2 separate regions of the Homo sapiens genome follow, and region 2 is linked to region 1. The links come from fine-mapping of genetic effects on gene expression. A gene starts in region 1. The other region holds a variant in brackets. All regions are shown on one strand. Distances are between the middles of the regions. Region 1 holds the start of SLC6A16 (solute carrier family 6 member 16). Region 2 overlaps SLC6A16 (solute carrier family 6 member 16).

Region 1 (16,119 bases):
TAGTACAGACAGGGTTTCACCATGTTGGCCAGGCTGGTGTTGAACTCCTGACCTCAAGTGATCCAACTGCCTTGGCCTCCCAAAGTGCTGACATTACAGGTGTAAGCCACTGCGCCCAGCCCCTCAGCTTCTGTTTCTAACCACCACCAACGCCTCTCTGCTCTACCATTAAAGTACATTGCAAACCCAGCCACTTCTTTCCAAGGCCACCATCCTAAGTCAGGTTCCCATCATTTTCTACAAAAATAATTATAGCTGATTATAGTGGGTTGCATGGCGTTCTCCAAAAAGATATGTCTATGTCCTAATCCCCAGAACTTGTGGTGACCTTATTTGGAAAAAAGGGTTTTGCGGGTATAATTACATTCAGGATCTCAAGATACTGCATTATCTGTGTGACCCCTAAATCTGATGACAAGTGTCTGTTTTTTGTTTTTGTTTTTGAGACAGAGCCTCGCTCTGTCACCCAGGCTGGAGTGCTGTGGTGTGATCTCGGCTCACTGCAACCTCCGCCTCCCAGGTTCAAGCAATTCTCTGCCTCAGCCTCCCGAGTAAATGTGATTACAGGCAGGCGCCTGCCAGCACACCCAGCTGATTTTAGTATTTTTAGTAGAGATGGGGTTTCACCATCTTGGCCAGGCTGGTCTTGAATTCCTGACCTCGTGATCCACCCACTTCAGCTTCCCAAAGTTCTGGGATTACAGGCGTGAGCCACCGCACCCGGCTGACAAGTGTCCTTCTAAGAAACACACAGAGGAGAAGACACAGAAGAGGAGAGCACCATGTGATGGTAGACACAGAAATTGGAGTTCTACAGCCACAAGCCAAGGAACTCCTGGAGCCACCAGGAGATGGAAGATGCAAAGAACTGATTTTCTCTCAGAGCCTCTGGAGGGAGTGTGGCCCTGGTGACACCTTGATTTTGGACTTCTGGCCTACAGAACCATGTGAGAATACATTTCTGTTGTTCTAAGTAGTAAGTCTGTGGTAATTTGCTATTTCAGCCATAGGAGACTAATACACCAATCCCTCCTTCCCACCCACTGATCCCTCCTCAGAGATGAGTACATGATTAACCAGAAGTCGAAGGGTAGGTGGCAGAGTGCAGTGGTGCAATCACGGCTCACTGCAGCTTTGATGCTCACCAACTTGGTTTCTTCTTTCCTAGGCACACAGGAGGACTTCATTTCCCAGGTCTCCTTGCAGTGAAGTTGAGGCCATGTGACTGGTCTTGGGCCAATGGAATGGGTGCAGAAGGGACACAGCCCATTTCTAGACTCAGCCTGAAATGTCCTCCATAATCCTTACTCTTTCTCCCTTCACTCACTGGCTGCAGGAAGCTGAGAATTATCCTTGGACTTACATAAAGCATTTTGGACTTTATGTAAGTAACAACCTGTTGTATTAAGCTACTAAGATTTTACGGTTGTTTGTTAAATCAGCTAACCTTAAACATCCTAACAACTACAAATAGAATACCTGTTACTGCATACACTATATATATCAAAACATTATTATGGGCCAGGTGAGGTGGCTCATGCCTGTAATTCCAGCACTTTGGGAGGCTGAGGCAGGAGGATCACATGAGCCCAGGAGTTCGAGACCAGCCTGGGCAACATAGTGAGACCCTGTCTACAAAAATTAACAAAAAAATTAGCTGGGCTTTGTGGTATGTACCTACAGTCCCAGCTACTCAGGAGGCTGAGGTGGGAGGACTGCTTGAGCCTGGGAGATCGAAGTTGCAGTGAGCCGTGATTGCACCACTGCACTCCAGCCTGGATGACAGAGCAAGACCCTACAGGGGAAAAAAAAGTGGAACACCAGGAGCTACCAGAAACTGAAGAGTCAAGGAAGGATTGTCCTCTGAGCCTTTGAAGGAAGTGGCGTGCTGACACCTTAATTTCGGACTTTTGGCATCCAGAACTGTGAGATAATATATTTTTGTTGCTTTAAGCCACCAAGTTTGTAGTAATTTATACAGCAGTCTCGGGAAGCGAATATACCTGCTCAATCAGAAACTCTGGGGGCGGGCCTGGCAATCTGTTTTTTTTTTTGTGTTTTTTTTTTGTCTCACTCTATTGCCCAGGCTGGAGTGCAATGGCACAACCTCGGCTCACTGCAACCTCTGCTTCCCGGGTTCAAGCGATTCTCCCGCCTCAGCCTCCTGAGTAGCTGGGATTACAGACACCCACCATCATGCCCAGCTAATTTTTGTATTTTTAGTAGAGACAGGGTTTCACCATGTTGGCCAGGCTGGTCTTGAACTCCTGACCTCAGGTGATCTGCCCACCTTGGCCTCCCAAAGTCCTGGGATTACAGGCAAGCCACTGCACCTGGCCTGGCAGTCTGTGTTTTAACAAGCCTTCCTGGTGACTGATGTGCACTAACGTTTGAGAACAGCAATTCTACCCATTGAATTCACCTGATCCCCTCCTCCTTTACTGGCAAATTCCCTCTTGCTTTTCCTCCTTCCTTCTTCACTGGCTGGTTCTCCTCAATCTTCATTGGATCGTCCTTTTTCTAGCTTCTAAAATTTGGGGAGTCCTAGCCCTTTCTAGCTACACTCACTCACGAGATGATATCATGCAGTGCCATAGTGTTCATCGCAATCTACAATACTGTTGACTTACCAATTTATATGCCTAGCCTCAAACTTTCCCCTGAACTGCGGACTCAGGAAGATTCATTTCCCAGGTCTCCTTGCAGTGAAGGACAACTTAACCTCTGCCTTTGGCTGTATAATTGACATCTCAAACTTAACACGCCCAAAACGAAACTATTGATTCCCTCCCACCTCCTGCACACTCCAGTACTTTCCTTTTCAGTAAATTGTCACTCCATCTTCCAATTCTTCAGGCCCAAAGTTTTGGAGTCTTTTTTTTTTTTTTGAGGTCTTGCTCTGTCACACAAGTGGGAGGGCACTGGCACGATCATGACTCATTGCAGCCTCAATCTCCTGGGCTCAAGTGATCTTCCCACTCAGCCTCCTGAGTAGCTGGGACAACAGATGCGTGCCACCACACCTGGCTATTAAAAAACACTTTTCTTTCCTTTAAGAGACAAGGCCGGGCTGGGCACGGTGGCTCACGCCTGTAATCCCAGCACTTTGGGAGGCCGAGGCGGGCGGATCACGAGTTCAGGAGATCGAGACCATCCTGGCTAACACAGTGAAACCCCCGTCTCTACTAAAAATACAAAAAATTAGCCAGGCGTAGTGGCGGGCGCCTGTAGTCCCAGCTATTCGGGAGGCTGAGGCAGGAGAATGGTGTGAACCTGGGAGGCAGAGCTTGCAGTGAGTGGAGATCGCACCACTGCACTCCAGCCTGGGCGACAGAGCGAGACTAGACTGTCTCAAAAAAAAAAAAAAAAAAAAAAAAAGACAAGGCCTTGCTATGTTGCCCAGGCTAGTATCCTACTATCAAACTCCTAGCCTCAAGCAATCCTCCCACCTCGCCCTTGCAAAGTGCTGGGACTACAGGTGCAAGCCACCGCTCCCGGCTGAGTCATTCTTGATTCCTCTCTTTCTCTCAGACCCCAAACCTAATCACCATTAGTTTTCTAATGCTCTGTAACAAATTACCCCAAATTTAGCAGTTTAAAACAATAAACATTTCTTAGGCCAGGAGCGGTGGCTCACTGTAATCCCAGCACTTTGGGAGGCTGAGGCAGGCAGATTACGAGGTCAGGAGTTCGAGACCAGCCTGACCAACATAGTGAAACCCCGTCTCTACTAAAAATACAAAAATTAGCTGGATGTGGTCCCACCTGTAGTCCCAGCTACTCGGGAGGCTGAGGCAGGAGAATTGCTTGAACCTGGGAGGCGGAGGTTGTGGTGAGCTGAGATCGCACCACTGCACTGCAGCCTGGGCAACAGAGCAGGACTCTATCTCAAAAAAAAAACACAATAAACATTTCTTACCTACTGTAGTTTTTGTGGGTCAGGAATCTGGGAGCAGCTTAGTTGGATGATTTCTGCTCACAGTGTTTTATGAGGTTGCAGTCAAGATGTTGGCTGGGGCTGTAGTCATCTGGAGATTTAACTACGGCTGGAGGATCCACTTCACCATGGTTCACTCACCTGGTGCTGGTTGCTGGCAGGAAATTTCAGCTCTTCTCTTATATGGATCTCTTCACAGATTGCTTGAGTGTCCTCACCGTATGGTGACTGGCTTCCTTTACAGAAATCAGTTGAAGGGAATGGGCAAGTAAGAAACAGCAATGCTTTTTATGACCTAGTCCTGAAGTTCCCCACCATTACTTATGTTCATTGGAAGCCAGTTGCTAAGGAGAGCCTGCACTCAAAGATTGGGGAAATAGACTTTATCTTTCAAAGTGTTGAAGAATTTGCAGACGTATTTTAAAACCACCACACAATCCATCAACACATCATGTCGGCTCTATTCTTGAAATAGATCCAGAATTTGACCACTTTTCACCATCTCCATTGCTATTACCCAGATCTAATCAACACCATCACTTGCCTGGACTAGAGATTTCCTCCTCACTGGGCTCTCTGCTTCTATCTTTAGCCCATTGCTATGATTTGGCTGTGTCCCCACCCAAAATCTCATCTTGAATTATAATCTTCATAATCCCCATGTGTCAAAGGAGAGACCAGGTGGAGGTAACTGAATCATGGGGGTGGTTTCCCCAGGCTGTTTTTGTGATAGTGAGTGAGTTCTCATGAGATCTGATGGTTTTATAAGGGGCTCTTCCCTCCTTTGCTTGTGAAGAAGGTGCCTTTTTTCCCCTTTGCCTTCTGCCATGATTGTAAGTTTCCTGAGGCCTCCCCAGCCAAGCTGAACTGTGAGTCAATTAAACCTCTTTTCTTCGTAAATTACCCAGTCTTGAGCAGTTCTTTACAGCAGTGTGAAAACAGAGGAATACACCCATACATGCTATTCTCTGCCCAGAAGCCAGGGGGAGCCTGCCATTAAAATGAAAGTCACTCCTTGACTCAGAACCCTCAAATAGCTTTCATCTCACCCAGAAAAAAAAGAAAAAAATTCCGACCATGACCTATAAGGGCCTCCAAATAATACTCTGGCCCCTGCCACTGCTCTGATCTGATCTGTTGCTACCCTTTCCTCAATCACTGGGATCCATTCATATCAGACTCTTTGCCATTTCCAGAACCCATCAAGTGTACTTCTTGCCTCAAGGCTTTTGCTGTTGCCATTTTCTTTGCCTGGAATGTTCTTCCCTATGCTGTTCACAAGGCTCCCTTCCTTCAGCTCTCTGCTGAAATATCACTTTCCCCAAGAGTCCTTCTTGACTACCCTGTCTAAAGTAACTCCCTATCAGCACTCTTACTCTCTGAAATTCTTTCTATTTAGGCATTTACTTTCTTTGTGCAACTGGAACGTAAAATCTTTTTCATAACTATATCCCAGGGGTCTAGGACAGTGTGGGGCACATCATTCAATAAATATTTATTGACCGACTGAGACTTTTCCTGGTGCCTTGAACACACAGTTTGCCCTGCCTCAGGGCCTTTGCACAGCCTCAAGGCTTGAGATGTTCACACACATTTTTCACCTAGCAAATAATCCTTTAAGCCTCAACTCCAGTGTTATTTCCTTAGAGAAATCCTCCTTCTAAATTAGGTCTATGGGCCGGGCGCAGTGGCTCACGCCTGTAATCCCAGCACTTTGGGAGGCTGAGGCGGGCGGATCACCTGAGGTCAGGAGTTCAAGACCAGCCTGGCCAACATGGCAGGCTGACTCTACTAAACCCTGACTCTACTAAAAATATGAAAATTAACCAGGCGTAATGGCAGGCACCTGCAACCCCAGCTACTCGGAAGGCTGAGGCAGGGAGAATTGCTTGAACCCGGGAGGCAGAGGTTGCAGTGAGCCGAGATTATGCCACTGCACTTCAGCCTGGGTGACAAAGTGAGATTGTCTCAAAAAAAAAAAAAATTCGATAGAAATAAATAGGTCTGTGGCCCTTTTCTGTCGCAGCACTTTTTTTTTTTTCCTTGAGACAGGGTCTTACCCCATCACCCAGGCTGGAGTGTAGTAGTGTGATCTTGGCTTACTGCAACTTCTGCCTCATGGTTTTAAGTGATTCTTGTGCCTCAGCCACCCGAGTAGCTGGGATTACAGGCGTGCACCACCACACCTGGCTCGTTTTTGTATTTTTAGTAGAGATGGGGTTTCACCATGTTGGCCAGGCTGGTCTTGAACTCCTGGCCTCATGTGATCCGCCCACCTTGGCCTCCCAAAGTGCTGGGATTACAGGCGTGAGCCACCATGCCCGGCCTGTCATAGCACTTAATACAATTTATAATCATGTAATTATTTGAGATTCATCATATATCTGTTTTCTTGTTGTGTGAAGCAAAACGAGGGCAGGAATGGGGTCTGTTTTGTTCTCTACACTATTCCCAGTTCCTAGCATTTAGTAGACTCTCGATAAATACGTGTTGAAAGATTGAATGATTCCCAAAGATTGTGATGAATTCTTACAGCACCCCCAAAATTTCCTCTTCATCTCTTTGTTCAATCATAACAATTTAAGCCTTTCATTCTCAAAGTGTGGCTCAGGGACTCCTGGGGGCTCTTGAAACACTTTTGGGGGTCCATGAGGTGAACATTATTTTCATAATACTACTAAGATATTATTTGCCTTTCACTTTCATTTCCTCTTTGAATATAGTGATGTTTGCCAGAAGCTACAAGACATGAGCTATTTTGACACACTCAGTGCAGAAGCAGATATGAGAATCCAGCTGTCTTCTATGAAGCCAGACATTAGAGAGATTTGCAAAAATGTAAAATGATGCCATTCTTCTCCCCAAATTTTTTCTTTTTTTTCCTTTTTTTTTTTGAGACGGAGTCTTGCTCTGTTGTCTAGGCTGGAGTGCAGTGGCAAAATCTCGGCTCATTGCAACCTCTGCCTCCTGGGTTCCAACGATTCTCCTGCCTCAGGCTCCCGAGTAGCTGGGATTACAGGTGTGTGCCACCACGCCCGGCTAATTTTTTTTTTTTTTGACTTTTAGTAGAGACGGGGTTTCATCATGTTGGCCAAGCTAGTCTCGAACTCCTGACCTCGTGATCCACCCGCCTTGGCCTCCCAAAGTGCTGGGATTACAGGCGTCAGCCACCGCGCCCAGCGCCAAAATTTCTTTTGGAGTAGAAATTATAGTTATTTTAAATAAAAATGTTATTTTGACACATAATGAATTTTTAAACAATGACTATTTTAGAAATTTATTTTAATATTGATAGATACAACTCACATAAACATACAACCCATATAAATGTAACTCATAAATTATTGGAGTCCTTAATAATTCTTAAGAGACCGGAAAGTATGAGAACGGATGACCTAAGTAAATCTTTGAGTTTTTAATTCTTGTCTGCAGCCCTAGTAGGCTTCTGAGCTCTCTTAAGGCAACGTCCCTGTCTGCCTTGTTGGACGCATATTTAAGGTTTGGTTTCTAGTAGGCGATCTTTAAGTAAATGCGAAAGGTTTGAAGGCTAGAAGGAATGAATGAGACGATTCTCCCACTTCCTACCCTCTTCTTCCTTACATGAAGTGGAAGCAAAGTGCATGTGCCAGAGAAAGGCCTTGTCTTAGAGCCCCGCCTGAAGCGTGGCATCGTGGGTGTCGGGGTGGGGTGCGGTGGGGAAGGGAGTGGCGCGTGAGCAGTCAGAGGATGTGCACACGTGCGTGCGTGTGGGGAGAGAGCAGGGAGTTGGGGAGGGCGAAGTGGTTACAGTGTTTGCTACAGCTGTAGGGAAAGAGTGAGGGGGCGCGGCGGCGCATGCGCAGAGAATCGGCGGGAAAGGCCGCGCGCCAGGCAGATCGAGGGGTGTCGCCCAAACCGATCTGTCGACGCCTGAAGGGGCCTGAGGAGATTGCTAGGCTTCTCAGCTGGGGCTTCTTCACCCTCATTTTTGTCCGACTGGCTGGACTGAAGAACCTGGCAGAAGCCTTGGGGCTAGGGTGAGGGTCACGGCCCAGGGAGCCCTAAAATGTTCCCACATCTGGGGTGTGTGGGGCTGGGCGCCATTTTCGAGGCCCGGGCCCACTGGGCTCCACTGACGGGTGACAGGTGACTGGCTGGGAGCCTCCTGGTTGCCCTGGGCTCTGTGGAGCTGAGGGATCAAAGGGGTCCCTCCTTTACCCCCCACGTAGGACAGAGGAAACTGTCTTCGGCTCTCCTCACTCATCCAGTCCGAGTTTGAGCCAATTCCTTGACAGGATTCGGCCATCAGTCCCTGCCTTTGGGGAAAGCCATCAGTGTCAAGTGCCCGAGTGGCAGAAACCCGGGTCTAGCCCCATCACTGGTCTGTTAGGGCAGTTATTTTCTGCTTTTTGCAGAAATGGGACACCAGCTCCTTATTTTCCTTTTCTGGAGGTTATAGTTCCAGGGAAGGAGGTAATGTGAGGGGAATGGGCATTTCTGGGGGATCCTGAGCACTCCCCACAGGGCATGAGCCTAGGAGTTGCTTGGGATGACGGTGTAGGGGCACCATGGAGGGTTGCACCCATATGGGAAGAGGAGTCCGCCTGGGGCTCAAGGGGCTTTATGGATGTTGGAAGTGGCCAGCTGGCCAAAACTCAGTTCTCTCCCTTCCGTAAAGCTTGCTTTTAAGGACAACTGTTCTAGAATGTGTTTAAGAAACATGAATCTATTATTTTTTATTTATTTATTTATTTGAGATGGAGTCCCACTCTGTCACCCAGGCTGGAGTGCAGTGGCACGATCTCAGCTCACTGCAACCTCTGCTTCCCAGGTTCAAGCGATTCTCCTGCCTCAGCCTCCCAAGTAGCTGGGACTATAGGCGTGCGCCACCACCCCCAGCTAATTTTTTGTATTTTTAGTAGAAACGGGGTTTCACTGTGTTGGCCTGGCTGGTCTCGAGCTCCTGACCTCAGCCGATCCACCCGCCTCAGCTTCCTAAAGTGCTGAGATTACAGGTGTGAACCCCCGTGCCCAGCCTATTATTATTATTTTTAAGAGACAGGGTCTCTCTCTGTCTCCCAGGCTGGAGTCCAGTGGCATGATCACCTCTCACTACAGCCTCGAACTTCTGGGCTCAAGCAATCCTTCCACCTCAGCCTTTCAAAGAGCTGGGATTACAGGCTGAGCCACTGGAGGCTTGGTTTTCACTTATTTTGGGTGTATACCCAGAAGTGGAATTGCTGGATCATATGGTAATTCTATTTTTAAGTTTTTGAGGAACCACCATAGTGTTTTCCATGGTGGTTGCACCATTTTACATTCTGACCAGCAAGGCACAAGGATTCCAATTTCTCCACATCCTCACCAACACTTCTTATTTTCTGCCTTTTTATATTAGCCATCCTAATGGATGCGAGGTATTATCTCATTGTAGTTTTCATTTGCATTTCCTTAATGATTAGTGACGTTGAACATCTTTTCATGTACTTCTTGGAGATTGGTATATCTTCCTTGGAGAAATGTCTATTTAAGTCTTTTGCCCATTTTTGAATTGTGTTGTTTGTTTCTTTGTTGTTGAGTTTTACGAGTTCTCTATATATTCTGAATATTAATCTCTTATTATACATATGATTTTCAGATATTTCCTCCCATTCTGTGGGTTATCTTTTCACCCCTTTGATAGTGTCTCTTGATGCACAAATTTAAAACATTTTAATGAAATCCTGTTTGTTTCTTCTTTTGTTGCTTTTGCCTTTGGTATCATATCCAAGAATTCATTGCAGATCCACTATCATGAAGCTTTTGTCGTATGTTTTATTCTAAGAATTTTATAATTTTAAGTGTTACATTTAGGTCTTTGATTTATTTTGTGTATTTGTATGTGGTGTTAGGTAAGAGTCCATCTTTACTCTTTTGCCTGTACATAATCCAGTTTTCCCAGCACCATTTGTTGAAAAGACTGTCCTTTACTCATTGAGTAGTCTTGGCACCCTTGTAAAAAATCATTTTTCCATACATTGTTTCTGGGCCCTCTATTCTGTTCCCTTGGTCTGTATCTTTATGTGAGTAACACACTATTTTGATTACTATAGCTTTGTAATATGTTTTGAAATCAGGAAATGTGAGTACACCAGCGTTTTTCTTCTTTTTCAAGATTATTTTGGCTGTTCAGGGTCCCTTGAGATTTCATGTTAGTTTTAGGACGTGTTTTTCTATTTCTGCAAAAAAAAAAAAAAAAAAAAAAAAAAAAAAAAAAAAAAAAAAAAAGCTACTAATTCTGTAGATTGCTTTGGGTAATACTGACATCTTAACAGTGTTGTCTTCCAACCCATGAACATGGGATATTTTTCCATTTATTTATGTCTCCTTTAATTTTTTTCAGCAATGTTTTGTAGTTTTCTTTGTACATGTCTTTCACCTTCTTGGTTAATTCTTTTTTTTTTTTTTTTTGAGATGGAGTTTCACTCTTGTTGCCCAGGTTGGAGTGCAATGGTGCAATCTCGGCTCACTGCAACCTCTGCCTCCCAGGTTCAAGTGATTCTCCTGCCTCAGCCTCCTGAGTAGCTGGGATTACAGGCATGTGCCACCATGCCTGGGTAACTTGGTAATGGAAACGGGTTTTCTCCATGTTCGTCAGGCTGGTCTCGAACTCCTGACCTCAGGTGATCTGCCCACTTTGGCCTCCCAAAGTGCTGGGATTACAGGCTTGAGCCACCGTGCCCAGCCAAGTTAATTCTTAAGTATTTTATTCTTTCTGATGCTATTACAAATGGAATTGTTTTCATAATTTTCTTTTCAGATTGTTCATTGTTAGTGTATAAAAATGCAACTGAGTTTTGATTGTTGACTTTGTATCCTGCTACTTTGCTGAATTCATTTATTAGCTCAAAAATTTTTTTGGTGAAAATTTTAGGATTTTCTACGTATAAGATCATATAATCTTTCTAGTTTGGTTTCCTTTTATTTATTTATATTTTTGCCTAATTTCTCTGGCTAGGACTTCCAGTACTATGTTGAATAAAAGTGGCAAAATTAGACATTCTACGCTTGTTTCTAATCTTAGAGGAAAAGCTTACAGTCTTTTATCATTAAGTATGACATTTGCTGTGAGTTTTTCGTATATGGCTATTATGTTGGGATATTTTCCTTTTTTTTTTTTTGCTGAGACATGGTGTCACTTTGTGACCCAGGCTGGAGTGTAGTGGTGTCATCATGGCTCACTGTAGCGTTGACCTCCTGGGCTGAAGTGATTCTCCCATCTCAGCCTCATGAGTAGCTAGGACTACAGAAGTACATCAACACACCCAGGTAATTAAAAATTTTGTTTGTTTGTTTGTTTGTTTGTTTTTGAGATGGAGTCTTGCTCTGTCACCCAGGCTGGAGTGCAGTGGTATGATCTTGGCTCACTGCAACCTCTGCCTCCCAGGTTCAAGCGATTCTCCAGCCTTAGCCTCCCAAGTAGCTGGGACTACAGGTGCACACCACCACATCTGACTAATTTTTGTATTTTTAGTAGAGATCAGGTTTCACCATGTTAGCCAGGCTGGTCTTGAACTCCTGACCTCAGGTGATCCACCCGCCTTGGCCTCCCAAAGTGCTGGGATTACAGATGTGAGCCACTGCACCTGGCCCCAGGCTGGTCTTGAACTCCTGGGTTCAAGTGGTCATCAGGCCTCCCAAAGTGTTGGGATTACAGGCATGAGTCACCATGCCCAGCCGTATTTTCCTTTAACTCCTAGATTGTTGAGTTTTTTTTTTTTTTTTTATCATGAAAGGGTATTGAGTTTTGTCAAATGTTTTTTCTGCATCAGTTGAGAGAATCATTATTTTTCTTTCATTTTGTTAATGTGGTATATTATATTGATTGATTTTTGTATGCAGAACCATCCTTGCATTCCAGGAATAAATCCCACTTGGTCATGGTATATAATCCTTTTAATATGCTGCTGAATTAGGTTTGGTAGTATTTTTTTTGAGGATTTTTGCATCAAAGTTCATAATGAATATAGGTCTGTAGTGTTCTTTTCTTATAATGTCTTTGTATGGCTCTGGTATTAGGGCAATGTTGGCCTTATAGGATGAATGAGGAAGTGTTCCCTCCTCTCCAATTTTTTGGAAAAGTTTGAGAAGGATTGATATTAATTCATTAAAGGTTTAGTAGAATTCACCCATGAAGCCATCAGGTCCAGAGCTTTTCTTTGTTGAGAGATTTTTGATTACCAATTCAATCTCCTTACTAGTTATAGATCTATTCAGATTTTCTGTTTGTGATTTAGTCTTAGTAGATTTGTATTTCTAGGAATTTGTCCATTTAATCTAGGTTATCCAGTTTATTGGTGTACAGTTGTTCATAAGTTCATAGTACTCTCTTATAATCCTTCTATTTCTGTAGAATTGGTAATAATGTCCCCATTTTCATTTCTGGTTTTAATCATTTGAGTCTTCTCTTTTTTTCTTAGTACATCTAGTTAAAGGTTTGTCAATTTTGTTGATATTTTTAAAGAAACAACTTTTGGCTTCTCTATTGTTTTTCTATTCTCTATTCATTTCTGCTTTAATTTTTATTATTTTCTTCTGCTAGCTTTGGGTTTAGTTTGCTTTTCTAGTTTCTTAAGTTTTAGAGTTAGGTTATTGATTCAAGATCTGGTTTTTTTTTGTTTGTTTGTTTGTTTGTTTTTAGAGGGAGTCTTGCTCTGTTGCCCAGGCTGGAGTGCAGTGGTGTGATCTCGGCTCACTGCAACCTCCGCCTCCTAGGTTCAAGCGATTCTCCTGCCTCAGCCTCCTGAGTAGCTGGGATTACAGGCGCCCACCACCATGCCTAGCTAATTTTTGTATTTTAATAGAGATGGGGTTTCACTATGTAGGTCAAGCTGGTCTTGAACTCCTGACCTCAAATGATCCACCCACCTCAGCCTCCCAAAGTGCTGGGATTACAGGCGTGAGCCACTGCATCCGGCCTCTTTTTTGTTTTTTAATGTAACCATTGATAGTTATAAATTTCCCCCTTGGCATTGCTTTTGTTGCCTCCCATAAATTTTAGTATGTGTGTTTTCGTTTTCATTTATCTGTAAGTATTTTCTAACTCCCCTTGTAGTTTATTCTTTGATCCATTGGTTGTTTAAGAGTGTGTTGTTTAATTTCTACAAATTTGTAAAATTTTCAATTTTACTTTTGTGATTCATTTCTAACTTCATCCTATTGTGGCTGGAGAAGATATTTTGTATGATATTTATCATTCTAATTCTATTGAGAAAAAAAGGAAATTTGTGGCCTACAAATTTGTGGTCTCTCCTGGAAAATGTCCCATGTGCACTTGAGAAGAATGTGTATTCTGCTGCTGTTGGCTAGAGTGTTCTGAATACATCTGTTAGATCTGGTTGGTTTATTGTGTTAAGTCCTCTATTTCCTTGCTTATCTTCTGTCTGCTGCTTCTGTCCATTGTTCGTAGTGGGGTATTAAAGTCTCCAGTTATTATTGTAGAACTGTCCTTTTATCCTTTCAATTATGTGAGTCTTTTCTTGATATATATATGTATATGTATATATCGTATAGGTATATGTATATACATATACACATATACACATATATGTATAAGTATATGTATATACATATACACATATACACATATGTATATGTATATGTATTTATATGTATATACAAATATATATATATACACACACACATATATGAAGGAATTAGGGAGGAGTAAAGAAGAGTACTTGGTCAACATACAGCAGGTTCATCTCATTGTACAAATGTAAGTTTCTCAAGCTTCAGTTCTATGGGCATCTGGCTTGTTGGAAAATTGGCCTGGTTTCATTTTCCCATCCTCCCTTTATTTTGGACCTCCAGTTACACATTTTAGGCCATTTGATATTGTCTCACAGTCACTAATGCTCTGGTAATTGTTTTCAGTCTTTTTTTTTTCTTTGTGCTTCATTTTGGATTGTTTCTATTGCTATATCTTTAAGTTCACTGATTTATTAAAATCTGCCAGTAATCTTCAGTGAAATTTTCATTTCAGGTGTTGTATCATCTCTAGAAGTTCTATTTGATGTTTAAAATATATCATGGCTAGGCATGGAGGCTCATGCCTGTAATCCCAGCACTTTGGGAGGCCATGGTAGCTGGATCACATGAGATCAGGAGTTCGAGACCAGCCTGGCCAACATGGCAAAACCCTGTCTCTACTAAAAAAAAAAAAAAAAAAAAAAAATAGCCAGTTGTGGTGGTGCACACCTGTAATTCCAGCTACTTGGGAGGCTGAGGAAGGAGAATTGCTTGAAACTTGGAGGCAGAGGCTGCAGTGAGCTGAGATCAGTGTGGGCAACAGAGTGAGACTCTGTCTCAAAAGAGAAAATATCTATCTGTCTGTCTAGCTAGCTAGCTATCTAGCTATCTTATATTCCTCATTCTGTTCATGTTTTCCTTTTAAGTCCTTGACCATATTAAGCATATTTGTAACAGCTATTTTAGTGTTATGGTGTGTTAATTCCATTAGTCTATCATTTCTGTTTTTGTTGTCTGATTATGGGTCACTTTTCCTGCTTTTTTGCATGTCTAGTAATTTTTGACTAGATGGTTGACATTATGAATTTTTTGTTGTTCAGTGCTAGGTTTGTCTGTATTATCTTAAGGAATGTTGGCCTTTGTTGTGACAGGCAGTTAAGTTACTTGAAGATCAGTTTTGGCTGTTTAAGGGTTGCTTTTAAGAATTTTTTTTTTTCAGGTCTAAAGTAGTCCTACTACTAGAACTAGAGCTAGTTTATGCCACTTTAAATGTTCCAAGTATTCAGTAAAGTCTCTCCACACTGGCTGATGGAAACTTGAGTAATTCTTGTTCTTCTCCAAGTTCTAGGAATTGTTTTACCTGTAGTTCCCCAGTACTTTTCTTTCCTTGGAATTTATTCTTTGCCTGTTCTTATGAGGTTTCATACTATACATGTGCAGGTTGATATTTAGCTAATGGCTCGAAGGTACTTTATCCAGATTCCTAGAGCTCTTTCTCTGTGGCTCCCTTCTGTTGAGTACTTAGCCCAGCTAATTCTAGTCACCTAAGCCTTCCTGAACTGACTTTTGCCTCCTCAAGTGCTGAGACTGCCAGGCTCTGTTTGTATTCTTCCTCCTGTGCCAAAGTTTGGAAATTAGCAGAAAAATGGGGCAATCGTGCAATTAGTTACCTTGTTTTCTGGCCTTTTTTTAGAGATTGCAATGCTGTACTGCCTTTGTTTAATATGTGAAAATAGTTGTTTTAATTATTTGTACAGTTTTTTTTTTTTGAGACGGAGTCTCGCTGTGTTGCCCTGGCTGGAGTGCAGTGGTGCGATCTCTGCTCACTGCAAGCCCCACCTCCTGGGTTCACGCCATTCTCCTGCCACAGCCTCCCGAGTAGCTGGGACTACAGGCGCCCGCCACCATGCCCGGCTAATTTTTTGTATTTTTAGTAGAGATGGGGTTTCACCATGTTAGCCAGGATGGTCTTGATCTCCTGACCTCGTGGTCCGCCCGCCTCGGCCTCCTAAAGTGCTAGGATTACAGGCGTGAGCCACGGCGCCTGGCCTATTTGTACAGTTTTGTAGTGTTTTTGTGGAGGTAACTCCAGACACTGTTTTGCTTTCATGGTCAAAAGTGGAAATTTCTTCTCCCCATTTTTATCTGGATCCTGTATATCCTTCATTTCTATGTTTTCTTAAAATTATCTTTTAATTAATTAATTTTATTTTATTATTATTGTTATTATTTTTGAGATAGGGTCTTACTCTGTTGCCCAAGCTGGAGTGCAGTGGTGCAATCTTGGCTCACTGCAACCTCCCCCTCCTGGATTCAAGTAATTATCTCACCTCAGCCTTCCGAGTAGCTGGGGCTACAGGTGTGTCCCACCATGCCTGGCTAATTTTTGTATTTTTTGGTAGAGATGGGGTTTCACCATATTGGCCAGGCTTGTCTTAAACTCCTGACTTCAAGTGATCCTCCTGCCTTGGCTTCTCAAAGTGCTGGGATTACGGGCATGAACCACTGCACCTGGCCTATTTTATTTTATTTTTTTAGAGAATGAGGTCCCACTCTGTTGCTCAGGCTGGAGTTCAGTGGTGTGATCATAGCCCACTGCAACCTTGAACTCCTGGGCTCAAGCGATCCTCTCCACTTAGCCTCCCAAATAGCTGGGACCACTGGCGTGTCCCACTATGCCTGGCTAATTTTAA
Region 2 (16,544 bases), 43 kb after region 1:
CAAGAGCGGAGACGGGCCTATGACAGCCTCCACATCCCTACCCCTAAGTCACCAGCTAACACCCAGTAAAGAGGTTCAAAAGGAAGAAATTCTACAAGTTGATGAAACAAAGTACCCATCAACTTGTAATGTGACTTCCTAACTTCATTAATTTGGCTTCACATAACATATCCCTTAGAACAGATCCAATAGACAACTCTTAATATCAGCTTGCAACTGTTGATCTCCCTGGATCCAGAACCACTTTTATTTCCAAGAGGAGGGGCATTCTTTGGGGGTGTTCATGGGGCCTGGACTTGCAATCCCTTCCTGGGTCCCATCTTACCTGGTGACCACCATCATTGTTTTCCCCATCCTCTTCCTCAACACACATACATGCACAACACATATACAATACTAGTGATGTCTACCAGTCCTGCTACTTCTGGGGTGCCTGTCTCCTGGAATGGAGCTGGAGGAGCAATGCTGTTGGTGAATAAATCAGTCTACTGGAACTCCAAGGACTGGATGTAAGCAGATCTTTTTTTCCTATAGATGTCTCAGATGTTCAGTTTTCCTGTCACAAGGCTTCCAGTCTGTATTAGTTCATTTTCACACTGCTAATAAAGACATACCTGAAACTGGGAACAAAAAGAGGTTTAACTGGACTTACAGTTCCACATGGTTGGGGAGGCCTCAATCATGGTGGGAGGTGAAAGGCATTTCTTACATGATGGCAGCAAGAGAAAAAAATGAGGAAGAAGCAAAAGTGGAAACCCCTGATAAACCCATTAGATCTCATGAGACTTATTCACTATCACGAGATTAGGATGGAAAAGACCAGCCCCCATGATTCAATTACCTCCCCTGGTTCCCTCCCATAACACGTGGGAATTCTGGGAGATATAATTGAAGTTTATATTTAAATGGAGACACAGTGAAACCATATCATTCTGCCCCTGGCCCCTCCAAATCTCATGTCCTCACATTTCAAAAGCAATCATGCCTTCCCAACAGTCCCCCAATGTCTCAACTCATTTCAGCATTAATCCAAAAGTCCAGAGTGTCATCTGAGACAAGGCAAGTCCCTTCCACCTATGAGCCTGTAAAATCAAAAACAAGCTAGTTACTTCCTAGATACAATGGGGGTACTGGTATCAGGTAAATACAGCCATTCCAAATGAGAGAAATTGGCCAAAACAAAGGGGTTACAGGGCCCATGCAAGTCCAAAATCTAGCAGGGGAGTCAAATTTTAAAGCTCCATAATGATCTCCTTTGACTCCAGATCTCACATCCAGGTCATGCTGATGCAAAAGGTGGGTTCCCATGGTCTTAGGCAGCTCCACCTCGTGGCTTTGCAGGGTACAGTCCCCCTTCCAGCTGCTTTCACGGGCTGGTGTTGAGTGTGGCTTTTCCAAGCTCAGGGTGCAAGCTGTCAGTGGTTCTACCATTCTGGGGTCTGGAGGACAGTGGCCCTCTTCTCACAGCTCCACTAGGCAGTGCCCCAGTAGGGACTCTGACTCTGTGTGAGGGCTCTGACCCCACGTTTCCCTTCTGCATTTCCCTCCCTGGCAGAGGTTCTGCATGAGGGCTCTGCCCCTACAGAAAACTTTTGCCTGGACATCCATGCATTTCCATATATCTTCTGAGATCTAGGCGGAGGTTCCCAAACCTCAATTCTTGACTTCTGTGCACCCGCAGGCTCAACATCACGTGGAAGCTGCCAAGGCTTGGGGCTTCTACTCTCTGAAGCCACAGCCCGAGCTGTACGTTGGCCCCTTTCAGCCATGGCTGGAGTGGCTGGGACACAGGGCACCAAGTCCCTAGGCTGCACACTGCATGGGGACCCTGGGCCTGGCCCACAAAACCACTTTTTCCTCCTGGGCCTCTGGGCCTGTGATGGGAGGGGCTGCCATGAATGTCTCTGATATGGCCTGGAGACATTTTCCCCATGGTCTAAGGGATTAACATTAGGCTCCTTGCTACTCATGCAAATTTCTGCAGCTGGCTTGAATTTCTCCTCAAAAATGGATTTTTCTTTTCCACTGCATCATCAGGCTGCAAATTTTCTGAACTTTTATGCTGTTTCCCTTTTAAAACGGAATGCTTTTAACAGCACGCAAGTCACCTTCTGAATACTTTGCTGCTTAGAAATTTCTTCTGCCAGATACACTAAATCATCTCTCTCAAGTTCAAAGTTCCACAAATCTCTAGGGCAGGGGCAAGATGCCACTAGTCACTTTGCTAAAACATAATAAAGAGTCATCTTTGCTCCAGTACCCAACAAGTTCCTCATCTCCATCTGAGACCACCTCAGCCTGGACCTTATTGTTCATATCAGCATTTTTGTCAAAACCATTCAGTAGGTCTTCAGGAGGTTCCAAACTTTCCCACATTTTCCTGTCTTCTTCTGAGCCCTCCAAACTGTTCCAACCTCTGCCTGTTACCCAGTTCCAAAGTTGCTTCCATATTGTTGGGTATCTTTTCAGCAACACCCCACTCTACTGGTACCAGTTTACTGTATTAGTTTTCATGCTGCTGATAAATACATACCTGAAACTGGGAACAAAAAGGTTTAATTGGACTTACAGTTCCACATGGCTGGGGAGGCCTCAGAATCCTGGCGGGAGGTGAAAGGCACTTCTTACATGGTGGTGGCAAGAGAGAAAATGAAGCAAAAGTGGAAATCCCTGATAGACCCATCAGATCTCATGAGATTTATTCATTATCATGAGACAGCATGGAAAAGACCAGCCCCCATGATTCAATTACCTCCCCCTGGGTTCCTCCCACAACACATGGGAATTCTGGAAGATACAACTGAAGTTGAGATTTAAATGGGGACACAGCCAAACCATATCACAGTCTTTCTAAAGCTAAATGTCCAGCCCTGAGTTCCTGCCCTCCCCTTGCTCTGGCAAACTCAGATACTAGATTACCAGGCTTGCATTATCCACGGGCTGGCCTTTAGCCAAGGGAAACCTGGGAAATGGTGACTTCAACAAAGATGGGGAAGATATTAATGTGCTTGCTACTGATACATGATAATCCTATTATAGGTCTAAAATTATTTCTAAAAAGAGGTTGCACTCAAGGTTTGAACATTGTGTTGTGGACTGAGTACATCTGTAAATCAGTGCCACAACCAGTTACTAACAAGCTGTTTCACTGAGCTCACCAAGAGTCCCATTTCTGCTCAGTACTGGGCACCACTGGTTTTTATCCCAGGGTCAAATCAACTGAACTTGCCCAGTGGATGATCACTGAGTGGGTCTTTAAGAACTTGTGGGAGGGTAGTGCCATGAGGGTGCTGAAGTACTCCCCAAAAGGAGACTGGGGGGCCTGTCAGTTACCTGCTGGGGATGGGGGCTGTGGACAGAGGTGATTGGGATTCCCAAAGATCCAGGGAATGGGTTTCCCTTAAATGCTCAGAGATCTCAGGCTTTTAGATTGCTTAGAGCCCACGGGTAAGTTTCAGTGATAAAGGAAAAGAAGACACCCCCAACCATTGGCAGGCAGGACTCAAGAGGTGGATCTGCAGAAAGGAAAGAGCAGAGGCATCTGAAGTTTCCAGACCTCTGAAGTCTGGCTCTTCAAGCTTGAAGATAGGAGGGCTGGAGGGGCGTGCACCTCTGTGTCATCACCCATTGGCTCCTGTGCCCTATTAGGCCAGCCCATCCACCCCCCAAATTCCAAATGCTCTATCTGCTTGAAGACTTGCACTATTGAATCGGGTAATGTGGGGATGGGAGAGAGAAGGCGGTGGGCTCCTCCTTCTCATCAAATAGTCTGGGTCTTCAACCTCCTCCCTTTTGGGAACCAGGGCACTCATCCTCCCTTCTGCCTCAAGGCCCCTCCCACCTACCTCCCCACCATCCCCGGTCCAGTTTTGGAGGTGGAACTTGGGAGAGGGGGATTGAAAAGTAGGGGCTTACCATCTCAAAGAAAGAAAGAAAAAATATTTTATTTCTCTCTTAGTGTGTTTCCCTCTCTCTCTCTCTCTCTCTCTCTCTCTCTCTCTTTCTTTCTTTCTTTTTTGACAGAGCCTTGCTCTGTTGCCCAGGCTGGAGTACAGTGTCTCGGTCTTGGCTCACTGCAAACTCTGCCTCCTAGGTTCAAGCAATTCTCCTGCCTCAGCCTTCTGAGTAGCTGGGATTACAGGGGTGCACCACCACGCCCAGCTATTTTTGTATTTTTAGTAGAGACAGGGTTTCACCATGTTGCCCTGTCTCTAGACAGTCTCGAGACAGTCTCGAGAGTCACATGTAGCCCTGTCTCGAGAGTTGCTGGTCTCGAACTCCTGACCTCATGATCTGCCCATTTTGGCCTCCCAAAGTGCTAGGATTACAGGCGTGAGCCCCTGCACCCAGCCTTTTTTTTTTCTTTTTTTTGAGACAGTCTCGCTCTGTTGCCCAAGCTGGAGTGCAGTGGCACGATCTCGGCTTACTGCAACCTCTACCTCCTGGGCTCACGCGATTCTTATGTCTCAGCCTCCCAAGTAGCTGGGATTATAGGCGCACACCACTGTGCCCAGCTAATTTTTGTATTTCTAGTAGAGATAGGGGTTTTGCCATGTTGGCCAGGCTGGGCTCGAACTCCTGGCCTCAAGGGATCCGCCCGCCTCAGCCTCCCAAAGCGCGTGAGCCACTGCACCTGGCCTAATTCTGCTTTCTAATTTGCATCCCTGACATGCGGGACGCTTCAATAGGGATGGCGCCACGTTCAAGAGGCTGAAGAAGAGACCCAGGGCTAGCAAACGAGAAATAGGGTTTATTTGAGATAACTTACAGGGTGATCCAGTGGTGATGAGCTGGACAGGAGAACCACACCCACTTGCAAAATGCATGCAGTTTATATGGCACTTTCACTCAGCACCCTCCCCCAGCAACCTCCATGCGGCAGCCCTTATCCTCAGGGTGTGCTTAAGTTATTGCTGCCAGGTGCGTCTACCATATACCCTCACTCCAGCATACCCACCTTGCTGTGTTTTTTTTGTTTTTGTTTTTCATTTTTCTGAGACGGAGTCTCACTCTGTCGCCAAGGCTAGAGTGCAGTGGTGCGATCTTGGCTCACTGCAACCTCCGCCTCCCAGGTTCAAGTGATTCTCCTGCCTCAGCCTCCTGAGTAGCTGGGATTACAGGTATGTGCCACCACACCTGGCTAATTTTTGTATTTTTAGTAGAGATGGGGTTTCACCATGTTGGCCAGGCTTGTCTTGAACTCCTGACCTCAAGTGATCCACATGCCTCGGCCCTCCCAAAATGCTGGGTTTACAGGCGTGAGCCACTGCGACCTGGCCACTCTAGCATACCTTTGAATGGCCCTCACATTCTTGTACCGTTCTTCCACCATTTCCCTGGGGCCAGGTATGCGGAGGAGCATTGCAGCCAGACACCACAGCAGCAATACAAACTACAACAGAAAAAATAATGAATATAAAAGTGGCTTCAGGTACTCAGGTTAACTGCTGCGAGGCACCACGGCAGGCCCGCAGTGGAGGAGAGGGGCAGCTCTCTGCAGACCCAACAGTCTGTTTTGTTCTGGAGAGAGACCACCGTCTGTGCTCAGCTGGCAAGAGGTTTGCTGCATACCATCTATGGGTGAAAAGTGAGATGTTTAGTGAGTACAAGAAGGGGCAAGTCATGGTCATTTTTTTCTTTTTGAGACAGAGTTTCACTCTTGTTGCCCAGGCTGGAGTGCAGTAGCTGGATCTCGGCTCACTGCAACCTCCGCCTCCTGGGTTCAAGCGATTCTCCTGCCTCAGCCTCCCAAGTAGCTGGGATTATAGGCGCCCGCCATCATGCCCAGCTAATTTTTTGTTTTTAGTACAGGTGGCGTTTTGCCATATTGGCCAGGTTGGTCTCAAACTGCTGGCCTCAGGTGATCCACCCACCTCGGCCTTCCAAAGTGCTGGGATTACAGGCATGTACCACTGCACCCAGCCTCATGGTCATTTTACAAGAAACAGGAAGTTGTGTCCTTCTGAGACAGCATCACCCCGAGAGTGGCCTGGTGCTTGGTTTGCAATACCAAATAGGTTGGCCCCCTCTCTACAAAGTGTCACATGAGGCTGGAGTAAGACAATAGGGATATTATGCAGTGTGGGCATCCAGACGCTAGACTGTTACATGCATCCCCCAGGTGCAGTGGAGAATGTTCTTCTATATCAGCCCCCCAAAGGGGGCTGCCTGCTACCATCCAATCCTGTGTTTCTCCTTGTAGTAGGCACATGGTGGGCCCCTTAAAGATGGTGCCCAGATGTCAGTGCACAGGACTGTTGGGTCCGGCTCCTAGAAGAAACCATCCAGGCAGCTCAGCCCATTGGCTACATGTCCTTTGCCTGTATCGAGCCAGATACTCTCAGTGGACAGCTGGATACAGGTGGAAGGATTGCCTCGTGACAAGCCATCTGTGTACCAGGCCTGGTCAGGAATTGGGGCCTGTCCCTCTTATATAAAGGAGGGAATATGTGGAGGCTCAGTGCCTTGTCAAAGACTGTCCTTCAGCTGTCACATAGGTGACAGGGCCAAGCAGCAAACGGAACCCTGTGCTAGTTCGTGTACTCCTCTGTTGCAGGCATGCGTGCCATTTGGCCACAATCTGTTTCTGGGCATTCCCAGATTTTGGTTTCTGGAAGGTGTCCTACTTTCGACTAGGATAAAGGCTAAGGCCTCAGGATCCCGATAAGAGCAATGGTGGCTGAGTGTCTGGAGACTGGCGGCCACATATAGAGCTAGCTAACTATATATTGGTCACCTAAGAATGCACAGGCTGGCTGGGCGTGGCGGCTTACGCCTGTAATCCCAACATTTTGGGAGGCCAAGGTGGGCGGATCACCTGAGGTCAGGAGTTTGAGACCAGCCTGGCCAACATGGCAAAACCCTGTCTCTACTAAAAATACAAAAATTAGGTGGGCGTGGTGGCGGGCACCTGTAATCCCAGCTAACCTACTATGGGGTACTGGGTATGTACTAGCATGGGAACCCCTTTGGAACATCTTCCACTTGCTGTAAGGCATAACACGTAGTGCAGAATTATAGCTCCCTGACACTGTAACTTCAGTCCCCTTCCATAGCTGGAACCAGAATCCTAAAGGTACAAGTTTGTGTCCTTGCCTTTGCCACTGGTCCCAGTTGGCCCCCTTCTTGACTAAGTGGTACAGTGGCCTAAGGAGTTGAGCCAAATGGGAAATAAAAGGACACCACGGCCTTAGAAGAACTAAGAAGGTTTGCAGCCACTTTGGTGGTGTAGGATGTGGGTAGGCCTGCACCATATGTAGAATGGCAAATTGAACACCGTTAGTCTTACCCAACCAGATGACACCAAGTATTGGACTGATAAGCCTGGACCCTGCCTTTGTCTGCATTGACCGCCCATCCTCTGTTAACCAAGTGAGACAGCAAGGTGAGGGCTATAGAGACTCAGAAGTTAGCTGGCAAAAGACTCAGAATTTAACATCAATGTAAAGGAAAACATGTACCCTCTCCAGGGTAGTCCATCTACTGAGGTCTGTGGCCACTAGGCGTTGACAGATAGTGAGGCTATGGAAATATCCCCGCGGCAAGACAGTAAAGGTATATTGTTCTCCTTCCCAGGTGAAAAGGTTAGGCTTTTTTTTTGAGAGGGAGTCTCGTTCTGTTGCCCAGGCTGGAGTGCAATGGCGTGGTCTCGGCTCACTGCAACTTTCGCCTCCCAGGTTCACACCATTCTCCTGCCTCAGCCTCCTGAGCAGCTGGGATTACAGGCGCCCGCCACCACGCCCAGCTAGGGTTAGGCTTTGTGTCCCCATCCAAATCTCGTCTTGAGTTGAAATCTCTATAATCCCCACGTGTCAGAGACACCAGGTGGAGGTAATTGAATCATTGGGGCGGTTTCCCCCATGCTGTTCTCGTGGCAGGGAGTGAGATCTCGCGAGATCTGATGGTTTTATAAGGGGCTCTTCCCCCCTTC[G/C]CCCGGCCTCGTGAAGAGGGTGCCTTTCTTCCCCTTTGCCTTCTGCTGTGATCGTAAGCTTCCTGAGGCCTCCCCAGCTATGCTGAACTGTAAGTCAATTAAACCTCTTTCCCTTATGAATTACCTAGTTTTGGGCAGTTCTTTATAGCAGCTTGAAAACGGACTAATATACCAGGTGAATGCAATGACAAAATGAGGTGCGTGCAGTCCCTCTCTTATCCTCATAAGAAAGGAGGCGATATGAGAACAGCTGCATACATTAGGGGGACGGCTTTGTTGAACTCCCAGTAATATGTCATTCTCCGTGTCCCATCAGGCATCCACATGGGCCATGCAGGGCTATTGTATGGGCTGTTCACTGGTCTTATAATGTCTACCCAGACTTCTTTCCTTTTCAGTCCCTATGATCTCATCATGACCTCCTGGCAGGTGTTGTCGTTTCTTTTTTCTTTTCTTTTTTTTTTTTTTTTTTGAGACGGAGTCTTGCTCTGTCGCCCAGGCTGGAGTGCAGTGGCACGATCTCAGCTCACTGCAAGCTCCGCCTCCCGGGTTCGCGCCATTCTCCTGCCTCAGCCTCCGGAGTAGCTGGGACTACAGGCACCCGCCACCGCGCCCGGTTAATTTTTTGTATCTTTTAGTAGAGACAGGGTTTCACCGTGTTAGCCAGGACGGTCTGGATCCTCTGACCTCGTGATCCGCCTGCCTCGTCCTCCCAAAGTGCTGGGATTACAGGCGTGAGCCACCGCGCCCGGCCAGGTGTTGTCGTTTCAATGCTGCTATTCACAGAGGGGCTGGCAGCTGTGCTGGTGTCCATTTCGCATTCCCCTTGATCACGCGCCTCACCATCCTAACTCAGTCGCAATTCAGAGGGTCACAGTCCTGATGAGACAGCCCTTCCCAAGATGTAATCTGGGATAGGAGCTCTGTATACTAAATAGGGTTTGGGCAGCAGTCTCCTAACTTGTAATACTAGCTCAACCTGTCTGACTTTCACGACCCCCGCCCCCACCGACCATCTATTGTTATAGGCCACTGGAACCACGGATGTCACCACATACGAGAGTGCATTCAGCTCCAGTATCCGCTGGGAACAGCCTGTACATTCTTGTTTTTTTGTTTCGTTTTGTTTTTGAGATGGAGTCTCACTCTGTCACCAGGCTGGAGTGCAGTGGCACGATCTCGGCTCACTGCAACCTCTACCTCCCGGGTTCAAGCGATTCTCCTGCCTCAGCCTCCAGAGTAGCTGGGATTACAGGTGCCCAGCTAACTTTTGGTATTTTTGGTAGAGACAGGGTTTCACCATGTTGGTCAGGCTGGTCTCGAACTCCTCACCTCGTGATCTGCCCACCTCAGCCTCCCAAAGTGCTGGGATTACAGGCGTAAGCCACCTTGCCTCCTGGATGCATTCTTGGTTTTTTGCCTTTTTTTTTTTTTTCTGAGACGGAGTCTCACTCTGTGGTCCAGGCTGGAGTGCAGTGGCACGATCTTGGCTCACTGCAACCTCCGCCTCCCAGGTTCAAGTGATTCCTATGAAGGGACTCAAGATAGACGCCAGTGTGCCACACCATTGGTAGTGTGCCTACTGTAAGATGGCATTTCTCATGCCCGCAGTGAAAAGCTCCTTGTCAGGGCCTCGGTAATGCTCAGTGTAGATAGCAAGCATCACCCCTAATTCCCAGAGGATGTCCCTCAATTCCTCCATAATCTGTCATCACAAAGGAGATGTGGGGACATTCCTTTCTTTCTTTTTGAGATGGAGTCTCGCCCTGTTGTCCAGGCTGGAGTGCAATGGCTCCATCTCAGCTCACTGCAACCTCCGCCTCCCGGGTTCAAACGATTCTTCTGCCTCAGCCTCCCGAGTAGCTGGGATTACAGGCACCTGCCACGACACCCGACTAATTTTTGTATTTTTAGTAGAGACGGGGTTTCACCATATTGGCCAGGCTGGTCTCAAACTCCCTACCTCATGATCCTCCTGCCTCGGCCTCCCAAAGTGCTGGGATTACAGGCCTGAGCCACTGCACCCAGCTGGGACATTCCTTTCATTTGGCCAGGCTGCCTTGCAGCTTGCAACCACCCGGCTAAGGAGGGGGTGGCCCGATCGTCATTATTGGTGCCATCGAGGCACCGCCTCAGGGCTGGATGGTTGGTGATGGATGCCATTTCACTCATCTCTGTTCCATGTCCCATAGACAGAGAAGCCACCCTGTGACCGACTCTCTGCCCTTCTTCCTGAACCTAGTTCCCAGCTCCACCAACTCCACAGCCGTGGAATCCCGCACTATGGTGTCTTCCAGGCAGGGGCAAGTCTTGCAGGGTGACCCCCTATGTCTGTGGTTGGTCGGCTTTCATCTTGGTGTTGACCAGCAAACGTGCAGAGAGGATGGGCACCTCCATGAGCTCATCCCAGGCCTCACTCTCTTCCCCACTAGAGCTCTCCATGGGGTCCCAGAACTTAGGGTCCCAGGATGATTTAGTCATGAGGGCCCTAACTCATTGACATAGCAGCCAGCAGCTTTTCAAATGGACCATACCTGACAAGCCAGGGTCTCTCCATTTTGTCATCCCGTGCCTGCAGGCAGGACAGTCGGTCTCTGATGTTTCAGTCTGATCTAATTAGGCATCTCTTTGTCATCGCAGTTCATCTTGTAATGGATGCACCTTCACCTGCGCCATGAGCCCGGCCCCCGAGGCTGCTCAGAGCACAGTCAGGAGTGGCCAGCCAACCGCAGCTGCCACAGCTCAGGCATCTAACTTTTGCTTAGTTAGATCCACCTCCTGCAATAGCTCTTCCAGACCCTTCAGTGTTTTGGGGGCATCTCTGTACCCATGCCTTGGGCCTCATCCATCAAGGATAGTGGCTGTTGGGCCCCACACAGACGTGGACAGCCAGCCCGAGATGCCCCCCGATGATATTCTCCTCTCCAATCCCATCGACTCTGCGTGCACAGGATTTTCTCCAACCTCCTGCTGGGATCATCGGTTGTCGTGCCAAATGCCTGTTAACTTCAGTAGCCATGGCACCAAGTTCAAGAGGCTGAAGAAGAGACCCAGAGCCAGCACACAAAACACAGGGCTTATTTGGGGGAACTTGCAGCATGGGCCAGTGGTGGTGGACTGGACAGGAGAACTACAACCATTTGCAAAAAGCATGCAGTTCAGGCCAGACTCGGTGGCTCGTGCCTGTAATCCCAGTACTTTGGGAGGCTGAGGCAGGTGGACCACTTGAGGTCAGGAGTTCGAGACCAGCCTGGCCAACATGGTGAAACCGTCTCTACTAATAATATAAAAATTAGCTGGGCATGGTGGCGGGCGCCTGTAGTCCCAGCTACTTGGGAGGCTGAGGCAGGAGAATCGCTTGAACTTGGGAGGCAAGGTTGCAGTGAGCTCAGATGGTACCACTGCACTCCAGCCTGGGTGACAGAGCGAGACTCTGTCTCAAAAAAAAGAAAAAAAAATGCAGTTCATAGGGCACTTTCACTTAGCATCCTCCCCTAGCAACCTCTACGTGGCAACCCTCATTCTCAGAGGCAGCTTAAGTTATTGCTGTCAGGTGTATCTGCCATAAGGGTAGGGTTAAGGAAAGTTATTGCTATCAGAGATGTCTACCAGACACTCCCAAGCTCCCTTTTGTCCAGAGGCCTAAGATAGTCTTCTGTGACAGCTTTATTGAAATGTGATTCATATACCACACAATCAACCTATTTAAAATTTACAATTCGGCCAGGCATGGCGGCTCATTCCTGTAATCACAGCACTTCGGGAGGCCGAGGTGGGTGGATCACTTGAGGTCAGGAATTCTAGTCCACCCTGGTCAATATGTCAAAACCCCACCTCTACTAAAAACACAAAAATTAGGCGGGCATGGTGTTGGGTGCCTGTAATCCCAGCTACCTGGGAGGCTGAGGCAGGAGAATCTCTTGAACCTGGGAAGCAGAGGTTGCAGTGAGCTGAGATCATGCCATTGCACTCCAGCCTGGGGGACAAGAGCAAAACTCCGTCTCAAAAAAAAAAGTTTACAATTCAATGATATTTAGTATATTCATAGAACTGCCGCATTTTGCCAAATGGCTTTTTAGCATTTAGTGGACTTGTTGATAGAATTTTAAATATTGAACTCTCCTTGTGGGATCAATTCTACTTAGGTGTAATGTATTATCCTTTTGATATATTCTAGATTCTACTTGCTAATATTTAGCTTGTTCATCTCGTCTTTGTAAATGAGGGGTTTTTTTCTACTTTTTATAAATTTTGGCATTAAAGTTATGCTAGCTTCAGAAAGTAAATTGAGGCGCTCTTTATTTTTTCTGTGATCCTAAGCCAGTGCTGCTCAAACTTTAGTATGCTGAAAGTCACCTGGAAAGCTGGTTAAACAGATCGTTGGGCCCCATCTTCTAGTGATTTTTTTTTTTTTTTCTTGAAACAGAGTCTTGCTCTTGTCACCCAGGCTGGAGTGCAATGGTGCGATCTCGGCTCACTGCAACCTCCGCCTCCCAGGTTCAAGCGATTCTCCTGCCTCAGCCGTCTCGAATAGCTGGGATTACAGGCGTGCACCACCACTCCTGTCTAATTTTTGTAGTTTTAGTAAAGACAGGGTTTCGCCATGTTGGCCAGGCTGTTCTCGAACTCCTGACCTCGTGATCTGCCCGCCTTGGCCTCCCAAAGTTCTGGGATAACAGGCGTGAGCCACTGCACCCGGCCGCCCGCTAGTGATTTTTATGTGGTGAATCTGGATTCAGGTTCATTAATTTGCATTTATCACACTCCCAGGTGATGCTTAGGATTCGTGGGCCACACTTTGAGCAGCCTGGTGTAATTGACATTAGAACCATCTGCTTTTTAAAGGTTAAATCGAACTCATCTCTGAACCCATCTGGTCCCAGAGCCCATTTGTGCAGTAAATCTCTACTCATCTTTCCAACCCTTTCCATTAATTTTCCCCAAAATTCTTGGATTATTTTTAGTAATTTACATTTGCCAGACACTTTCAGTTTCCTCTAAGGTTTCAGATTTGTTGACCTAGGATTTCATATAGCATATGTCCTTAAAATTCTAAATTTGATGGCTGTGTCTCTTTTCTCATTTTTTACATTTTGTTATTTTTATTTATCTTTTTCTCAATCAGATTCACAAGTGGCATTTGGATTTACTTAGCATTTTTACTTTATTTTCTATCTTATTAATGTCAACTTTATAATTACAATTTCTAGTTTGTTTTGTCTTTATTCTTCTGATTTCTCAAACTCCTGACCTCAAGTGATCCACCTGTCTCAGCCTCCCGAAGTGCTAGGATTACAGGCGTGAGCCACTGCGCCCAGCCTATTCTGATTTCTTAAGGGGAGTATTAAGTTCCTTTATTCATCATCTTTAGTCTTCAGTAAAGTGTAATTTTTGCTGTATGTCAAAGGTTTTGATATGAAATCTCCTTTTTATGCTACCTAGAAACTTTGTAATTTTCTACTTCTTTTTAATCCAAGGATTATCTGGAAGTGTGTGTGTGGGGTTGTGTGTGTGTGTGTGTGTGTATAGGATTATCTGGAAATATATATACACACACACTTTTATGCTACCTGGAAACTTTGTAATTTTCTACTTAGCTTCTTTTTAATCCAAGGATTATCTGGAAGTGTGTGTGTATGTATGTGTGTGTGTGTGTGTATATATATATATATATATATATATAGATAGATATATAGATATGAGATGGGTGTCTTGCTGTGTTGCCTAGGCTGGTCTTGAACGCCTGAGCTCAAATGACCCTCTCACCACAGAAGCATATTTCTTAATTTCCAAGTCATTAAGGTTATTTTCTCTTTTAAAATTGTTCATTTCTTTTTTTTACGATTTTTACAAATATTGTTTATTTTAATGAAGCTGGTACAATGTCCATTTAAAACCCATATCCCAGGCCAAAAAGAACAAATAAAAAAGAGCAGTGTTCTGCCTTATTCATTTCTACGTGTATTGCTTTATTAATTGCTAATGAAAATCAGAACTTTTCTGGGATCTTCTGACAAGATTTAAAAAAAATCTTAAAATGCCTTTTCTTCAGTGAAGCCATCTTTGGAGTTAGGCATCACTCTTACCTGATCTGTCGTCTTGACTTCAACCTGATATTCCTCTTCTTTTGGTCCAGACCCTCAAATTTTAAAAGTACCTTCAAGTTAAGGAAAGGTCGTTTTTCCACTGTTCAGTTCTCTGAAAAAACTCCCATCTCCCACTGAAAGTCACAGTCCAGGAGTGAAGCAATCACATGCTAGAACATCAGGGCCAGTTGGAAAGTCATTATGAACACCTGCATTGGCCGATCTTACTTATCACCACCACAAGCCTGAAAATGCAATGTCCTGAAAAAGGTGGCCTCTCTGTGCACACGTAATTTTTAAAAAGGAGAGGGTAGGCTGGGCGCGGTGGCTCACGCCTGTAATCCCAGCACTTTAGGAGGCCGAGGCTGGCAGATCACAAGATCAGGAGATCGAGACCATCCTGGCTAACACGGTGAAAGCCCGTCTCTACTGAAAATACAAAAAATTAGCCAGGCGTGGTGGCGGGTGCCTGTAATCCCAGCTACTCGGGAGGCTGAGGCAGGAGAATGGAGTGAACCCGGGAGGTGGAGGTTGCAGTGAGCCGAGATCGCGCCACAGCACTCCATCCTGGGCGATAGAGCGAGACTCCGTCTCAAAAAAAAAAAAAAGGAGGGTAATATGAAGGGGACTGAGGCTTGATCACCAAAAATCAGCACAATGAAAACAAATGATAATGAATAATGAACACCAGAATTCAAATTACCAGATGTTTCAAAGAGATGGGGTACCAGTTTTCAATTGCGTTTTGAACACCACATTACAAAGGAACTATTTTTAAAAATAAAGGATTAAAGGATCGAGGGAAAATAAAAAAAGAATAAGCCGTTGAATGACCGCCCCCCACTACGTTTGTTCCTGATAAACTTCAATCACATCTTCTTCCTCCATTCCCAGTTCTTTTGGAGTATGATTATCAGCAATTCTCTGACCCTCAAAGAGAAACCGAGTGGATTCATTGGAATACCCTGTCTTTGACAGTATGATTCTTTGAGTTTCTTGAGATGTGTTGTCATTTTCACTTTGAAGTGAATCTCACTGCTATCCTGTCCAGTGACTTTGAGTTTAATATATTCACCTTCCTTCTTATCCCCCAAGTCCTCAGTTGAAGGTTTTGCCTCCTGGTCAGACATGATGACAGTGGCTTCACCCAGGGGTCTCCACACAGCAGCGGCCTCGAGTAGGCAGAACCGCACTCCAGGGTTCACAAATCCATCTCCCTTCCCTAAAATTGTTCATTTCTAATATGACTAAGTATCTATTAAATCGTATTTGTTTGCATTATTCAATTTCTCTATGTCCTTTTTTTTCTCTATTAGATCTGTGAGTTCTGAAAAAGTTGTATGATAATTGCCATCGTAGTTATATTTTGATCAATTTCTTTTTGGTTTTATACGTGTTTTGCCTTAAATATTTAGCTCTCCAGTTGTTTGGTACATATAGGCTTGTGGCTGTTATTTTTTTCTTTGCGTGTTGAGCATGTACCATACGTCTCTAATGTGCTCGGTACTTTTAATCTTAAATATTGTTTCCTGATACTCAGATTTCAATCTTGGCTAGGATGGTTGGGGCATTTGCTTTACAATAAATCATTCAGGTGAACATTTCAGTTTTGTACACTTTTTGGAATATGTGTATTTTATAATAAAAAGGAGATAGGTTAGTATGCAAGAAGAAAGCAAAACTCGCCCAAAAAAGGAAATCTGGCCGGGCGCAGTGGCTCACGCCTGTAATCCCAGCACTTTGGGAGGCCAAGGCAGGCGGATCACGAGGTCAGGAGTTCAAGACCAGCCTGACGAACATGATGAAACCCCGTCTCTACTAAAAATACAAAAATTAGCTGGGCATGGTGGTGCACGCCTGAAATCCCAGCTACTTGGGAGGCTGAGGCAGGAGAATCGCTTGAACCTGGGAGATGGAGATTGCAGTGAGCCGAGATCGGGCCTCTGCACTCCAGCCTGGGTGACAGAGCAAGACTCTGTCTCAAAAAAAAAAAAAAAAAAAAAAAATCTATAAATACAGTACTAAGATTAATGAGTGAGTTTATCAAGGTTGCTGGATACAGGGTTAATAGAACAATATTAGTAGCGTTTCTACATACCAGCAAGAAATAAATAGGTAATGAAAAATATAAAGATAACATTTATAATAACATGAAGCTATTTTAAGTGCCTAGGAATAGATCTAATAAAAAAAATACAAAACTTCTATGCCAAAACCTATAACCATTATTATTATTATAGACAGGGTCTCTCTGTTGCCCAGGCTGGAGTGCAGTGGCATGATCTTGGCTCACTGCAACCTCTGCCTCCCAGCTTCAAGAGATTCTTGCGCCTCAGGCTCCTGAATAGCTGGGACTAAAGGCATGCACCACCATGCCCAGCTAATTTTTTGTATTTTTGGCAGAGATGAGGTTTCACCATCGTGCCCAGGCTGCTCTTGAACTCCTGACCTCAGGTGATCTGCCCGCCTTGGCCTTTCAAAGTGCTGGGATTACAGGGGTCAGCCACCATGCCCAGCCTATAATCATT

The links.
Region 2: its variant is fine-mapped to the expression of SLC6A16 in whole blood (TOPMed, PIP 0.97).

Annotation. Positions count from the first base shown.
Region 1 is chr19:49,316,882-49,333,000 of GRCh38, reverse strand. SLC6A16 (solute carrier family 6 member 16) reads left to right here and starts at 7,810. Exons shown (of 12, transcript NM_014037.3): 1 at 7,810-7,953. RefSeq lists a silencer at 5,552-5,703 and an enhancer at 6,497-6,646.
Region 2 is chr19:49,273,721-49,290,264 of GRCh38, reverse strand. SLC6A16 (solute carrier family 6 member 16) reads left to right here. Exons shown (of 12, transcript NM_014037.3): 12 at 1-627. The coding sequence ends at 142. It also overlaps the pseudogene SUMO1P4. Among named protein-coding and RNA genes, the nearest start is that of MIR4324, 27 kb to the left of the region's middle. The variant G/C (reference allele first, on the strand shown) is at 7,931.